Linked DNA regions of Homo sapiens: region 2 is linked to region 1. The links come from fine-mapping of genetic effects on gene expression. Tissue or cell type: lung. Region 1 holds a variant in brackets; the other region holds the start of a gene. All regions are shown on one strand. Distances are from middle to middle.

The links. PIP is the estimated chance that this variant, and not a neighbour inherited with it, causes the effect.
Region 2: SRA1 starts here. The variant in region 1 is fine-mapped to the expression of SRA1 in lung (TOPMed, PIP 0.93).

What each region holds. Positions count from the first base shown.
Region 1 is chr5:140,364,760-140,372,759 of GRCh38, reverse strand. It overlaps SLC4A9 (solute carrier family 4 member 9), which reads right to left. Exons shown (of 22, transcript NM_031467.3): 12 at 7,182-7,240; 13 at 6,738-6,926; 14 at 6,496-6,609; 15 at 5,179-5,340; 16 at 4,862-5,040; 17 at 4,101-4,173; 18 at 1,597-1,665; 19 at 1,136-1,309; 20 at 363-518; 21 at 1-15. ANKHD1-DT (ANKHD1 divergent transcript) reads left to right here. Exons shown (of 2, transcript NR_186045.1): 2 at 1,578-1,864. Among named protein-coding and RNA genes, the nearest start is that of SLC4A9, 8.6 kb to the right of the region's middle. The variant G/TG (reference allele first, on the strand shown) is at 3,231.
Region 2 is chr5:140,553,172-140,561,171 of GRCh38, reverse strand. SRA1 (steroid receptor RNA activator 1) reads left to right here and starts at 3,699. Exons shown (of 5, transcript NM_001035235.4): 1 at 3,699-3,744; 2 at 3,900-4,025. The coding sequence starts at 3,720. It overlaps APBB3 (amyloid beta precursor protein binding family B member 3), which reads left to right. Exons shown (of 13, transcript NM_133173.3): 10 at 71-154; 11 at 418-533; 12 at 668-859; 13 at 2,351-2,904. The coding sequence ends at 2,587. RefSeq lists enhancers at 3,270-3,329, 3,420-3,779, 3,645-4,466 and a silencer at 4,990-5,139.

The sequences.
Region 1 (8,000 bases):
ATACATCAGCTCTGACTGTGGAAGACAGATCCCAAGATGGATTGAGAATAGATAGAAAGACAGATAGTGAAAGACAACATAGAGGTAAACCCACAGTGAGACAAAACAAAGATCAGAGTTGAGAAAGACAGCCCACTTGAGCTGAAGCCTCAGCCCTTTCCACCCACATCGAGGGCCCCTGTCCTATGAAGAAAGATTTCCTTCACCCCTTCAGTCTGCCTATGTCCATACACAGATAAGGGAAGTGACTGTTGATCAGATCTGCGGGCTTACTGGAGATATTATTTAGGGACAGCTCCTGGACAAGAACGCTCTCCCAAACCCTGACACATTCTCCTGAGAGGACCCAGCCTGGAGCTCACATCTTCACTGTCACTTCCACTGAATGAGTGTTCTGGCTCCAGCCCCTTCTCAGGGATGCTTCTCTCCTCCTCTGGCATCAGCTCATCCAGCCAGAGGAGTTCCTGTGGTGAGAAGACCCTCTCCAGGGCCTTTCGGACCCCCACAAGGCCCAGCAACTGCAGGAATAGAAACATGGCCCAGGCCTGTCAGCAACAGTAGTAGGAACATTAACAATAGTAACACTTATTGAGCACTTCCTATGTGCTAGGCATTGTATATCAGTTTCACTGAATGCTAGCACATTCCTATGAGGTAGATAGAATAAATTATTCCCATTGTACAGGGAAGGAAACTGAGACCCCAAGTGATTAGTTACTTCCCAGAGGTCACACATCTGGGATATATAAGCAGATTGATTCTACTGCAAAGCCTGTGACTCTTAACTTCCTCAATAAGAACAAGGCCAGAAGCCACCTATGTTATCACCTCACTGAGTAATAAAAGTGTCACCATTTCCTCTACCAAGACCTCAGATTTCTTCTGGGTTTTATATTCTTACCTGTGGCTGATCACTCCAAAGAGGTTGGGAAAAGAGGTGAATCAGGTATCCCAGGACTAGCCCATACATAGGTATCATCCTGCCATCTTTTTCTTTGTCTTAGGATTCCCAACCAGGGAGAGCCACAGCGAGTGAGAGGGGAGATTCTTCCTCTCGTGGAGGCCTTGGCCACCCTTCCAGGCTCAGAGTCTCCCAAGACCCTCCAGGACACAGCCCAACCCTGCCTCAGCTTACCATGAGGGGGAAGATGATGGCTGCAGGGGTAGACTTGATTATCCAAAGCAGCCCCAGACAGGCAAGCTGGATGGCTGTGAAGAGGTGGACCCTGGTCAGAGGCACATGCCGCAAGAGTAGCAGGTCTGGCTGGTGTTTTGCTGGCATCAACAACAGCTTCACCCTATTAGTGAACTAGGGGAACAAGAGGAAGAGGAAAGCAGGGCACTCAGGTAGCCTGATAGGAGGGTGTCACTGATAGCTATCATAGCCCAGCACTGGGAGCAGGCAGAGAGCATGGCAGCCGAGTCCCTGAGTCCAGGAGAGACAGGAAAAAGAGAGTAAGAGGGAAATTGGCAAGTGTAAGCAGGAGATGCCAGCAGAAAAGAAAAAAGGAGTAGGGTTGCTAGGTAATTTTGTTCTTTTTTGTTTGTCTTTTTATTCTTCTTTTTTCTTTTGTTAGGTGATTTTAATGGGCTCACCTGAATGCTGCTGAGCGCTGCCACCCCCATATACAGGAAGATGCCATAGAGCACAGGCATTGGAATGAACTGGTAGAAAGAAGCAGAGAGTTATCAAAGTTTACCTCTGCCAACCTCCCAGATGCCCCAGGATGCCCAGATGCCCTAGATCCCTCTAGCATCTAGCATCCAGGTCTGCCCAGGCCTTGCCTTTCCTTTCACATGTTTCATGCCGATCTTATTGAATCCTCAAATCAATTAGATGAAGTAAATGTTATTATTGCCTTCATTTTACAGATTGGGAAATTGAATTTCAGAGGGACTAAGTAACTTTGTCCATTACCTGGCCTACCATTCCAATCTTATCTATCACATTTCCTTCTGTTCTTTATGCTCCCACTATACTAACCGCCTTTCCTTCCCTCAACATGCCCAAGTTTGTTCCTACCCCTTGCAAAGCCTTTTGCTTTGCTATTCCCTCCACCTAAAATGCTCTTCCCCCAGACTTTCTCATGACCAGTTTATTCTTATTACTCATGCCTCCTCTCATGACACCCTGAAAGGTCTTCATTGACTTTTTAACTTCAGGCCCCATCTAAAGTAGCCCCTGGCACTCTTAATCATCTTATCTTCTTTTATTTTTCACAGAAGTTATCACTATCTAAAGTTATCCTATTCTCTTGTTTTAATTTGTTTTTTTGTTTTTGTTTTTTTTTTTTTGAGGTGGAGTTTCGTTCTTCCACCCAGACTGGAGTGATGTGGCTTGATCTCGGCTCACTGCAACCTCCATCCCCCCAGGCTCAAGCGATTCTCATACCTCAGCCTCCCAAGTAGCTGGGATTATAGGCACCCCCCACCACGCCCAGCTAACTTTTATATTTTTAGTAGAGATGGGGTTTCGCCATGTTGGCCAGGCTAGACTCGAACTCCTGACCTCAGATGATCCACCCGCCTCAGCCTCCCAAAGTGCTGGGATTACAGGCGTGAGCCACCGTGCCTGGCTTCTTGTTTTAATTTTTAAAAATCTTTCTCCTCTCACCAGGTTGTAAGGTTAGAAAAATGATTTCTTTTGAGCACCATTATATCCCCAGTACCTAGAACAGTGCGTGGCATGTGGGTTTTTGTTTGTTTTTTTGTTTAGGGTTTTCTGTTTTTTGGGATTTTTTGTTTTGTTTTGTTTTTTGAGACAAGATCTCACTCTGTTGCCCAGGCTGGAGTCCAGTGTCACAAACCTGGCTCATTGCAGCCTAGACCTCCTGGGCTCAAGTGATGCTCCCACCTTAGCCTCCCAAGTAGCTGAGACTACAGGTGCACACAACCATGCCCAGCTAACTTTTGTATTTTTTGTAGAGACGGGGTTTCGCCATGTTGCACAGGCTGGTCTCAAACTCCTGAGCTCAAGCAATCCGCCCACCTCGGCCTCCCAAAGTGCTGGGATTACAGGTGTGAGCCACCACACCCGGCCTAGCATATGGTTTATGCTCTGTAAATGTCTGTAAATGAGAGTCACCCAGTTAGTAAGTGGCTGATCCGGTCCATCTGGCTCTTTCCCTACTCCACTTTCACCCAGCTTCCATGACCTTTCCCTTCCCTAACCTCTTGTCGTCCTGCCAGTGACCCTTGTCTGACATTCTCCACACCCTCCTTGACTGCTT[G/TG]CTGTCTTGGCTTGTTCAACCTTTTTGCTATTACTTGTTACTTAATTTTTGCTCATTTGTGTGTGTTGCTGGTAGGGGCTTAGTTCCATATTTCTTTTCAATATTCCACTGACCCGTACTTCTCCCAAGTGCCTAGCAGTCTTGCATATAGCAAATATTCCATATACCTCTGGTGAAGGAGAAGTGAAGGCTTTTTGCCTCAAAGTTTTTCTGTTGTTGTTTTTTGGTTTTTTTTTGTTTTTTTTTTTTGAGACATTCTTGCTCTTGTCATCCAGTGATCACCACCTACTGCACTCTCAAACTCCTGGGCTCAAGCGATCCTTCCACCTTAGGCACACACCACCATGCCCAGCTACCTTTTTTATTTTTTGCAGAGACAGAGTCTCCTTATGTTGCCCAGGTAGGTCTCAAACTTCTGCGCTCAAGTGATCCTCCCACCTCAGCCTCCCAAAGTGCTGGGATTACAGGCATGAGCCACCGCACCTGGGCTGATCATACTCTTAGTCTCAGGTTTGTTGGGAGGCTAGAGCAAGGGTAGCACTTAGACCCTAGGGGATGGTGGTGGCACACCCACACCTTGCTCCACTGGGTAAAAAGCCCATTGGATAAGCGTTTGAGTTCTCAGACAGATCTGAAAAACTGGCTCTTTTGATGGGCTCTTGCAAGTTTCTTTGCCTCTTTAAACTTCATCTGCCTCATTTGTAAGGTACATACTCCTTTCAGGGTTAATGTGAGGATTAAATGAGACCATGTATGGAGAAAACTTAACAGAGCACCTGGCACACTGTAAGTATTCAACTACTGTCAGTTCTTGCTGTGCTCCTATTATTACTACACTGACCCTGATCCTGGCTTGTATAACAAAGGTACCTTGAGCACAGGTGCCAGGAAGATGGAGGCTCCTGTAAGGATGAACACCACCAGGCCTGTCAGCCTCTGTTCCCTGTGGGGAGAGGGAGGAGTTAGCTGAGGTCTGGGAGAGTCCCTGGGGTATCCAGACTGGAGATCCTGGCTGAATACCAGTACAGACCCCGGCAGCAAGAGAAAACTAGAGGAATACCCCAGTAGGTCACCCAGAGGGATGAGCCCTTAGCTTGATGTGAAAAATTGGTGGAGAGGAAGGGGCAGAGCACTTCAAGGTGAGAGTCCCAGACCTCTCCATCAATTCAAGTTCATAGTTGCTCCTTATTTTTATTTTGATGGAAAATTAGCAATGTTTACACTGCCATAAAGACTTACATTTCACAATTTATCAAGTTGATTTCATATACTTTAGATACTTAGACTGTGCTTCCAACAGTTCCAAAATTGCTTTTATGATGGATTCCTTTGTAACTTCTACATTGAGTGAGGATTATTAGGTGGCACCTGACCCTCCACTTCAGCCCTGGCTGCCTCTACCTTTGCATGGATGATAATCCTCTTGAGGCCCCTCCCAGTCCCCATGGCTGAGGGGAGAGAGGGGAAGATCTGACTCACCCATCTCAGAGCCCAGAACTCACTCATTCTGCCACTGCAATGCTTGTGGGACACCAGCTTAGAATTTAAGCTGCCCAAGTAACTCTGCCATGTTCCCCTTTGCCTTACCTTGCTGCCCACCTCTTACTCCACTTCCTAAATACCGCCCTCACCTGATACCCAGGAAGTTGGGGCGCTCCCCGGGGGCACAGGCTCTGCTCTCTCTCCGAAGACTGTCCATGTGAGCCAGGGAGATGACAGTGGCTGAGACATACCAAGGCAGTCCAAGCGCTGATGTGAGTAGCATCAGCACAGCCACACAGAAGAGGTCCAGGTGGAAGCCAGCTCCCTTCTGCAGGTAGTGGTGGGGGCAATGAGGATGAAGCTAGCCCAGGCCCCAGCCCTCTGTCCTCTGAGGTAGGAGAGGAGGAGCGTAGACTCCCCTGGAGCTTCTGTCCCTTGGTCTTGGGCCTTACCCAGCAGGCCTTACCTGCAGTCTGTATTCCATGCGGTTGAGGATGACTGCTGTGATCTGTTGGTCCATGAAGATGAGGATAGACAGCAGCAGGGCAGGCAGGGCAGCTGCCACACTCCACCACCAGGGGTTGGCTCCAAAAGGTGACACCAGCCAGCCACGCCCAGGGAGTGTGGGCTGGAGGAGGGCATTTCATGGACAGGTTGGAGTGGGTCTCCCAAGAGCATCTCACCTGCACATCTCAACCTTGGCATTCTTCCACAACCTGCCCCCACCCCAAGTCACTAGATGCTAGTGGGCTGTGTGTGCATAGCTGGTTCAAAGCATCCCAGTGCCTTAAAAGACAGCAGATGGAAGGAGACCAGCCCTGAGGTCAGGCTGGAACCAGGGGCTCTGGACTTTGGTTCAGGGTCCCTCCCTCCCTGGAACAGAAGGAGGTGGCACATGTGGCCTACACACACTTCTTGATGTACAGAGCCCTGCTCCCTAGAGATCCCTCTCCCCCTATCCCGGGTGGGGCAACTCAGGCTCAGACCTGCCTTGATCTGAGGCAGGGACAGGGCTGGGTGTGTCTGTGTCCACGCTGATTACAAGCATATGTGTTGGGGAGGGGGCCCCAGTTGCTGCCCCAGCTGGATTCCTCCCTGCTCTCCTGTCTTGGGGGAATTTGGAGAGGAGGTCTCCAAATGCAAAGGCAAAGTCTAGAAATCAGTGCTAAGCCTTGTCCTGCACACTGTCATGCCCTGGAAAGGGAGTTCCAGCTTTCCTGGATCAGGGTAGGCAACGTGGGGTGGGAAGAAGAGAGTGAGGAGTAGTGGAGTGGGCAGGGCCACGCCAAGGGTGGGGCAATCCCGTAACAATAATAGCTAACATTTATTGAGGACTTGGTATGTGCCAGGCATGTGGTAAGTGCTTTCCACTGTGATCTTCTGTAAACCTCAAAACAATCTACGGGGTAGGAACTATTGTCATTTTATTATTTCCATTTTATAGACGAAGAAATTGAGGCTTAGAAATGTGCATTAACTTGCCTAATGCATAGCTGGGAAGTGGAAGAACTGGAACTCAAACCCAGGGCTGGCTGATCAGAACCCATTCTCTTAACCCATACCCTGTAATAATAGCTACCGTGTATTCTCTGTACTCACGTGTCTGCTGCAGTACTTCATTTAATCCTCATGACAACCCTGTGAGGCCATTATTATTACTATCTCTAGCTTATTAGTGAAGAAAGAAGCTTAGAGAAGTGTGGGATTTATTCATTTTCCTTCCCCATGGTCTGCTGGCCCTGCTTTCCCCTCTGGTCCCCCAACCCTCTTCCCTGGCTCTCACCTTGAACTCTCTGGGTACCATGAGCTTTGGTGTGGCTAGGCCCAGGAAAGCATCAAGGCCACAGCCGAGCAGGATGGCCAGGACTGAGGAGAAGTCGCTGAGCCCTTTGCGCACCTGGCACACAGTGGACACTCAGTCAGGTCCAGGCCTGCCATCTCTCTTTTTCCACACCACTTCCCATCACAGATAGGACCCAAAGCTTAGAGTCAGGCCTCTCCCACAGAAAGAAAGGTGAAACTCACCACAGAGGGGAAGAAGCGGCTGGTCTTTACACACTTGAGGGCCATAGCAAAGAAGAAAGAAGTAAGGAAGAGGAGAAGGGAGAAGAAGGCAATGTCTGGGACTGTATGACAGCCAGGGCCACGAGGGTGGCCTCCCTGCCGGGTGCACTCAGGTGGCGGCAGCAAGGATGCATTGATCAGGCCTAAGTCCTGTACACAGGAGGGTCAGGAGTGGAGTTATAGGCAATGGAGTAAATGTCCTGCTCTCCTGGACCAACTTCAAGGGAGGAGGGACCCACAGAGACACCAGGGGCCCAGGATGGGAAGTTCCCAGCTGTAGGAAATGGCTAAGCTTTACTCACCTATGAAGGTTTCCTTAACCTATGGGTAGGAAGAGCTAGAAACCACCGACTGCCTTGGTCTCCACCCTTTCCTTCCTAGAACCTCCCAGGAGCAGTCCCTCACCATGCTTACAATGTCGTCTCTGTCTTTTGGCCTTGTCCTTATCCATTGAGACTCATTTCCTGGGAAGCAGAGAAGAATTCAGATGTATGTTCCCTCCCCTGGGAACCTCCTCCAGCCCCATAAAATTCTTATCTGATGGGTCCAGGTGAACCAGAGTTCTTAATTGTGACTCATCTGTCTGCTGACTCTATCACTACCAAGTGTGCGAGAAGGACATTGTCTCATGCCCCCATCCTCTCAAATTCTCTACCCATCTGCATCCCTGGTACCAAGCACTGGACCTGGCCACAGTAGATGCTCAGCAAATGTTGGCTGAATAGAGGAGTATACAAATCTGTGTGTTTCCACCAGGGCTAGAACTGGTCTTGTTCATGCCTAGCACTGATAGGAGAACATATAGAGAGGCCACTTCTTCCCAGTCCTGGGGTTGCCTTCCATGTGGAGGGATATATGCAAGTGTAATACTCCAAGCCTCTCTCCACCTGGCCGGCCACTCTCACCCAGAAGAGCAGTGATATATTTGATTGGTGATTTCAGGAAATGAAGCTGGGCATACCTGGCCCTGCCCCTTTCTCTCCCCTCTCTCGAGTATAAGCTGCCTGTTTGATGTATGTATTTAGCTCTACTCCCCTGGGGTAAGATAGTCTCAAACCAGTGCTTCCACGACTGGTGGGTAAGTCTATTCAATTTTGGCTTCATCATTAGGAAGCCCATTCACCCACAGATATAACCCATGTTCCTTTATCAGTGTTGTCAGAAAGGAAGATGATATCAGGCCTTCTGTTGTCTTATTTCTCAATTGATTCAGAACCAGAGTGT
Region 2 (8,000 bases), 190 kb before region 1:
GCCCATTGAGAAGGGTGGGGAAAAGGGTAATTGAAAGAGCTTCCAGGCCAACTTGGTGTGTATATTTCAGTGGAGCTGCTGGATGCGGTAAGCCAAGCTGCTCAGAAGTACGAGGCACTGTATATGGGGACACTGCCAGTCACCAAGGCCATGGGTGAGGACTGAGGGGGCTGCATGTGGTGGGCTGTGTGAGGCAAGGGGAAGGTGAGTGAGGTGAGGCCTGTTATCATTTCTCAAGAGTCCTCCCGTGGCCTTGTTATGGCCTGGGGTCTACCAGCCTTCCCAAATCAGAATTCTAAGGCTTGCCCCAGCTATCCTATTCCCTATCTCTGAATCCCAAATCAGTGAGAGGGGGCTAGACACTCCCTGCAGACTCTTTCTTTTACACTGGGAGACACGCTGGGTATGTTCCCCCAGGCATGGATGTGCTGAACGAGGCCATTGGTACCCTCACCGCCAGGGGGGACCGGAATGCCTGGGTCCCCACCATGCTCAGTGTGTCTGACTCTCTCATGACTGCACACCCCATTCAGGTACCAGAAGAGGGTGAAGTTGGGGGCTTTGGAGGGGTGAGCAGGGATGCTGAGGGGTCACTGCTTGCTGTCGGAAAAGTTAAGTGGGTCTGGCCCGTGCTTGGCCCTCTAGTGACTAGGCCTGGTGTGGGCAGGCAGAGGCCAGTACAGAGGAGGAGCCATTGTGGCAGTGCCCTGTGCGCCTTGTGACATTTATTGGTGTTGGCCGCGACCCACACACCTTTGGCCTCATCGCTGACCTGGGCCGTCAGAGCTTCCAGTGCGCAGCCTTCTGGTGCCAGCCCCATGCAGGGGGACTCTCTGAAGCTGTGCAGGCTGCCTGTATGGTGAGTCATGGGTGGGAATGGGTTGGTGGGATTGCCCTGCAGCTGCTCTCCACTGTTTACTTGGGCTCCGGGTCGGCAGCCTCTTCAGAGATCACAAACCTGGGCTGATTCTGGTTCATTAATGTTTTGGCCCTCATGTTGTTTTTAGTAAGTTTTAATTAGTTGCCAATATTTAAAGGCCAGGACATTTCACATAATAATCGCTATTCTTGTTTTTCTTAAAATATCAAGAGCTCTGGCACTCAGTTCACACGTGTAAGTGTCAGCATGCAGCCAGAGTTGTGCAGAAGCTGTGCCCTAAAGAGTTGGCATTGTTCCTGTTTGTCTCATTTAGGTTTATTTCCTGGCATCTGTGGGCATTTGAGTGTGGGTTGCTTATACTTCGTTAGTTCAGTTTGCCCATTCATTCAACAAATATGGGTGCCTACAGGGTCCCAGACACCATAGCTGACCCTGAGAATTTAGTGCTGTAGAGGGCACAGCCCTTGCCTTCACAAAACACTTAGGATAGAGCCAAGATAGACCAGAAATAAGTTGTACACCACTGGTTGATGGAAGAGGTGGCCCCTTTAGGGGTCAGGAAGGCTACCTGTAAGAGGTGATAGAAATCCGACAGTCCAAGAGGGAAGTTAGCCAGGTGAAGGGGAGTGGGGCAGGTGTACCAAGCACAGGGAACCTTAGCTGTGAAGGTGAGAGATATTAGTGGATGAGAGTATCTGAAAGAATCTAGTGTATCTGGCATGCAAGGGGGACGTAGTGAGAGGTGAGATCAGAGAGAATGACAGAAGCCAGGTTTGGGGGACCTCATAGGTCAGGGTGATGAGTTTATCTGGAGGCACTAGGAAGCACTGGAGCCCGAGAGTGAAGTCAGGGTTATGGATTAGGATGACCACTTAAGCTATAGTATGGGTAAAAGATTTGGAGGACGTAATAGGAGGTAGGAAGGCCAATTAGGACACCTTTGAGCTGTTCAGATGAGATGACTGGGAGCAGTTGCATTGGGGCTGGAGTTTGAGTTGTACACCTTTACCCTTGACTAGGGAATCTGCTTTGCCAGGGACTAGTCCCCACCAGTGAGAGATGGAAAAGAGGCAACATAGTGGTACATGTAATTAAGAGTTTAGGCTCTGCAATCAGAGAGAACTAGGTTTGAATGCCATTTCTGCCTTTCTCTGGCTGTGTGACCTTGGGCAAGTCATATACTCTCTGAATCTCAATTTCCTCTTTTGCAAAACAGGGATAATAACCCCTCATAAATAACTGAATTATACAAAGCACTTAGCAGTGTCCAGCCTGCCCTCCTTAAGTGTCTGATACATGTTTTATGATTTTGTTATTGAGCTACCTGGGAATGCTCTAGAAACTCCACATGTGGCTGACTACCAACCTTGTTATCAGACAGAAGCTTTGGCCAGTTCCCTGTCCTGCAGAAGCTTTCAGGGAGTCTAGAGGCAGAAAGTAGCTGGATCCTCACATTCCCCTTCTCCCTAGGTTCAGTACCAGAAGTGTCTTGTGGCCTCTGCAGCTCGAGGCAAGGCCTGGGGTGCCCAGGCCCGTGCCCGCCTGCGGCTCAAGCGGACCAGCTCCATGGATTCCCCAGGAGGTCCCCTGCCCCTCCCCCTGCTCAAAGGAGGGGTTGGCGGTGCAGGGGCAACCCCTCGAAAGCGGGGTGTCTTCTCTTTTCTTGATGCCTTCCGGCTGAAACCCTCTCTGCTCCATATGCCCTAAACTTATCTGGGAAGGCTGGGGAAGTAGGCTCTGGGTCCATGCCTAACTCTGTACCGTTTTATTCCTCAAGGCCTATAGCCTGTCACTCCTTGAAGCCTTCTCTGCCTGTCCCTCCGATCCTTGTCCACCGTCTATTTATTGCCCAATTTATTGTTTATACGGATGACTGGGAGGCACTGCACCACAACGTAGGACCCTGGCTCCCCTTTCCTTGGGTCCTTGTGTTCCTTGCCCCTGTCCAACCCTGGACAGTTGGCTCTACCTCAGTAACACTTTATAGCAAAATCAGTGCAAATAAAAATCCCTCAGTGACCTCACTGGATGTGAGTATATTGGGCCTGGGACAGGGCTGGGGGCTAACACCCTGTGTGAGATGAGTGTCTTTGTGTCTGTGCTTGATGTTGGTGGCTCTCTGTAGTCACATGACAGCATGGGTGTGATGGAGATCTGACTTCATTCAACAAACATATTTTCTAAGGAGTTCCCTGTGCCAGGCACTAAGCTGGGCACTGGGAATGTAATAAAATAGTCAAGGTCCCACCTTCTAAGACTGTCCGACAGGGAAACGAACAAGAGTCAAATAAGGCAGAAGATGTGATGTAATACACCTACGAAATCTCAGAGGGTTGTAGGGTCGTGGGAGCTCAAGTGAGACACTTAACCTGGCCTGAGACATTCCAGAAGGCCTCCTGAAGAACTGACATCTGAACTGAGAACTGAAGGAAGATGAGTACTAGTGAGGCTACCGGACGTGAATGTGGAGATTGTGCAGGGCAATGCAAGAGGAGGCTGTAGAAGTCAACCTGGCTAGATCACAGCGGGGTGTATGTGGGGCAGGAGCTTCTTTGTTTGAATTTGCTCCTGAGAGGATGAGGCCTCCTAGAGCACTGGCTCCTGGACAGCAACCTCCTTTGGTGCCTTGTGACCAGGGCCCTGATGGTTCATTAGATGGAGCCTTCGAGTCTTAGGGAGTTGCCGCAGGGTCCCCACAGCGGCTCCCGACGGTTGTGAACCAGCATCCATCCTCCACGGATTCCGGCAACCCGCCTGGCCCTGGACGTGTCTCAACTGGCCCGCGTGAGGGGCCGCCCCGGAAATGACGCGCTGCCCCGCTGGCCAAGCGGAAGTGGAGATGGCGGAGCTGTACGTGAAGCCGGGTGAGCGCAGCCGGCGGGCTAGGGCACTAGGTTGTCGCCCCGGCCTAGGCTGGGGGCGGTTGCGGCGCTTAGTATGGACCCTCTGTCTCCCCCAGCCCCAGTATAAGCTAACAGTGGAGTTCCGGGCTCGCTTCACACATCCCTCGCCTCCGCAGGCAACAAGGAACGCGGCTGGAACGACCCGCCGCAGTTCTCATACGGGCTGCAGACCCAGGCCGGCGGACCCAGGCGCTCGCTGCTTACCAAGAGGGTCGCCGCACCCCAGGATGGATCCCCCAGAGGTGCGTGGGGCCCCTGTGCTCGGAGACAGACGGAGAATGGGGGGGGGGGGGTGTAAGGCATAAGCCTGTTTGGAAGGCTTTTTTCTCTCCCCGAGGGCTCCTTAAGGAGAGAAGTTTTGGGGCTCCAGTAAGGGTCTCAGAGCAGGTGCTTTTCCGAGCCCCTTCTCTGCTGCTCAGGTTAATAAATGGTGTATTGATTTAAAAAGACTATTTTTTCATCCTAGATGATCTTATCCAGACCTGTGGCTTTTAATATAGTTTTAATCCTGAAGTTATTTTTCTTTGTTAACCTATACCTCTTGCCAGAACCGTATAGTGGCATATTCATTTGTCCATTCTGTCTTCACTTAGGTATATGATAATCGTCAGACTTCACAGTTTTTCATTCATTTAATCACTGTTATTTACTGAGCACTTCTATAAGTCAGGCACTGTTTGAGGGCGAACTAGACAGCAGTGAGAAAAAAAAAAAAAAGATCTCTGCTTTCAGGAAGTCCACGTTGCAGCACTGGAGATGGGCTGAAAGATGAAATAGTGGTGAGGGTGCTACAGAAAATAAGCGGTGATGTAATATGACTGGGTAACGAGGTGTCTGAGGGGCTGACATTTAAGCCACACAAAGATCATGTACAAAAGCATTCCAAGCAAAAGAAACAGCTGCAAAAGGAATAAGTTTGGCCAATTCAGAGACTGATGAAATACAGAGTGGCTGGCTACAGCATAGTGGGCTTTGTAAAGCAGGATGAGGAATTTGTATTTTAATCTACATAAAGTTAGAAGCCATTGAAAAGTTTAAAGTAGAGGAGAGCCACCTTTCCCCCCGAGAATTTTCCAAGCCATTAAATGGGCTGTGCCGTGGCCCCCATAAAGGGGCTCAGGTTTGGTTCTTTCAGTGGCCCTCCATTCTCCACACCCTTTTTGCTGTAGAAGAATGATACAAGGCTTGGTTTCTTAAACTCAGCAGTATTGATAGGTTGTGGCCAGATAATTCTTTGTGAGGGACTTTCCTGTGTCTTATGTTAATCAGCAACTCTGACTTCTACCCAAAAGATGTCAGTAGCATCCACCCAGTTGTGATAGCCAAAAGTGTTTCCAGACATTTGCCCTGTGGGCACTATCTTCCTAGCTTGAGAACCAGGGACTGATTTACATTTTGGAAAGATCACTGTGTCTGCTGTGTGAAAACAAGATTTTAGGGAAGTGGAAAGACAAATTACAGCTATTATGGTAATATAGGCAAGATTTAATGATTTGCATAAGGGTGGGAGTCAGGGTGGTAGGAGTTGGATGGATATGAGATGGAGAAGGTCAGTAGGAATGAGTAGATTAGGAAGAATCCATATAACTGAATTTTTTTGCTTGATATAGGAAGACTGGGGATGGTGGTTTTGGGGAGGGGGAGTTTTTTTGGGGGGCCATGTGAAGTTTAGGCTGTTACTTTTGGGGAATGTTCTAGGCCAGAATTAGAGAAATAAGTCACCATTACAAGGATGGTATTTGATGTCATGGGCTTGAATATGGCCAGGGACAGAGCCGTAGGGCACTCTAGCATTTCAAGGTTGAGAAGGAATCAGCAAAGGAGATTGGGAAATGGCCAAAGAAGAAAAAAGGAGAGGCCAGGCGCAGTGAGTCACGGCTGTAATCCCAGCACATGGGGAGGCCAAGGTGGGCAGATCACCTGAGATCAGAAGTTCAAGACCAGCCTGGCCAACATGGCGAAACGCTGTCTCTACTAAAAATACAAAAATTAGCTGGGCCTGTAATACCAGCTACTTGGGAGGGTGAGACAGGAGAATCGCTTGAACCTGGGAGGCGGAGGTTGCAGTGAGCCGACATCGCACCACTGCACTCCAGCCTGGGCGACAGAGTGATATTCTGTGACAAAACCAAAATAAAAAAAGAAAATAGGAGAGCGTAAAGACATGAATCAATAGTAATGAATGCTGCTGAGACATCAAGATAGAGACAAGGGGCCAGGCGCAGTGGCTCACGCCTGTAATTCCAGCACTTTGGAGGCCAAGGCGGGTGGATCACGAGGTCAGGAGTTCAAGACCAGCCTGGCCAACGTGGTAAAACCCTGTCTCTACTAAAAATACAAAAAATAGCCAGGTGTAGTGGCGGGCACCTGAAATCCCAGCTACTCGGGAGGCTGAGGCAGGAGAATCATTTGAACCTGGGAGGTGGAGCCTGCAGTGAGCCGAGATCGCACCATTGCACTCCAGCCTGGGACTCCATCTCAATAAAAAAAAAAAGAGCGACAAGGAACCAGTAGATTTGACAAACATAGCAGTCACTCGTGATCATAACAAGAGCAAGTCTCTGCAGTAGTGAGAACAGAAACAGCTGGAATGGGCTGAGGAGAGAATGTGAAAAGTAGAGAGAGTGACTATAAAGAGCTCACTCAAATGCTGCTGCAGAGATAAGAAATGGGACAGTATCTGAAAATGGAACATGAAGTAAGGGAGTGTTTTGATAGTAATATACTAGAGCATGTTTGTACACTAACGGGATGATTCAGTAGAGAGGGGGAGCTGATGATGCAAGAGAAGATAGTTACAGTAGGGAAGTCTAGAGAAGACAAGAGAGGCTAGGATGCAGAGTACAGCTGGTAAGATGGCTTTTGATAGGAGCAGGAACCTTTTCATCTATTACAAGAGGAAGAAAAGTGGCCACAGATGCAGGTGGGTTAGGAGGAATGGTGGTGGGAAGATGAGAGAGTTCTGTTTAATGACCTCTACTTTTCAATGAAACATTAGGCAGTGTCAGAAGAAGATAGCAAGGAAAGGAAGAGAAGTTCTGAAGAGTGGAAAAAATGAGCCAAAATGTCCAGGCAGTATTTGGTACCTTTTAAAATCTGTGGCCATGAATTTAAACTATCAGCATGGCTCTGTTTTCCCTCCCAAGTGCAAGCAAGTTGGGTTTAACCAGGAAAGTGGGACAATGGGAGGAGATAAAGGAGGTAAAAATATTTATAAGGGGGTGATGTTAATGTACATTGAAATCAAAGTAGCTGAGCTGGAAGGGGTAAGGGGGTGATCAGATTTTGGAGGTGATAGTGTGAACAAGGCAGGGGGATGACAGGCTGATGTAGGGTGGGAAAAAATGATCACTGGAGGTGAAGAGGTCAACTGAAACACCAAATTATTAGATGAATTAATCATCCTTGTGGATGTTGGTACCTAAAAGTAAACTTTTGACTTTTGTCTTCCAGTCTTCTTTCTGTTAGTGGTTCCCATTACTAAGTCAGAAACTACGAGTCACCTTGACTTCTCTCTTCCTCACTCTCAATCCACTCCTGTTGCTACTTCCTCCTAAGTAAATCTCAGACTACTCCATTCCCCTCGTCTACTCTTTTACCCTAGTCCATGCCAGCATTATCTCTTTCCTGAACTACTCAACCTCTCAACTGGTGTTCCTGCCACCACTGTTGACCTGTTTTCATCAGTTTTTCACAGAGCATACATGTTTAAAAATAAGTCTGGTCACATCACCCCTTGCTTTTACAAACCTGCAGTGGCTTCCCAGTACCATTGACTCAAGATCAAACTCTTCCAAAGCCCCACAGGGTCTGGACCCTCTGCTTACCTCTCTAATGATAGCTCATACTACTTTCTTCAGTGGTAATAATTTTTAGCCATACAGGCCTCATTACTGTCTCTTGAACAAATCAAAAGTTTTCCTGCTTCTTGGGCACTGCTCTAACCTCGACCTAGTACATGTTCCTTCAACTCTTCATAGCTGCATCTATCTCATCCGGTAGTTCTCAATTTAATAAAAACAGCTCATTTTGTACTTTTTGCTACATACTAGTCTAGCAGCTGTCTTTTTTTTTTTTTTTTAAGAGGGTCTTAGTATGCTGCTCAGGCTGCTCTCAAACTCCTGGGCTCAAGCGATCCTCCTGCCTCTGCCTCCCAGTGTGCTGGGATTAGAGGCATGTGTCACCACACTCAGCCTGTACCTGTATTCCTAATCTTC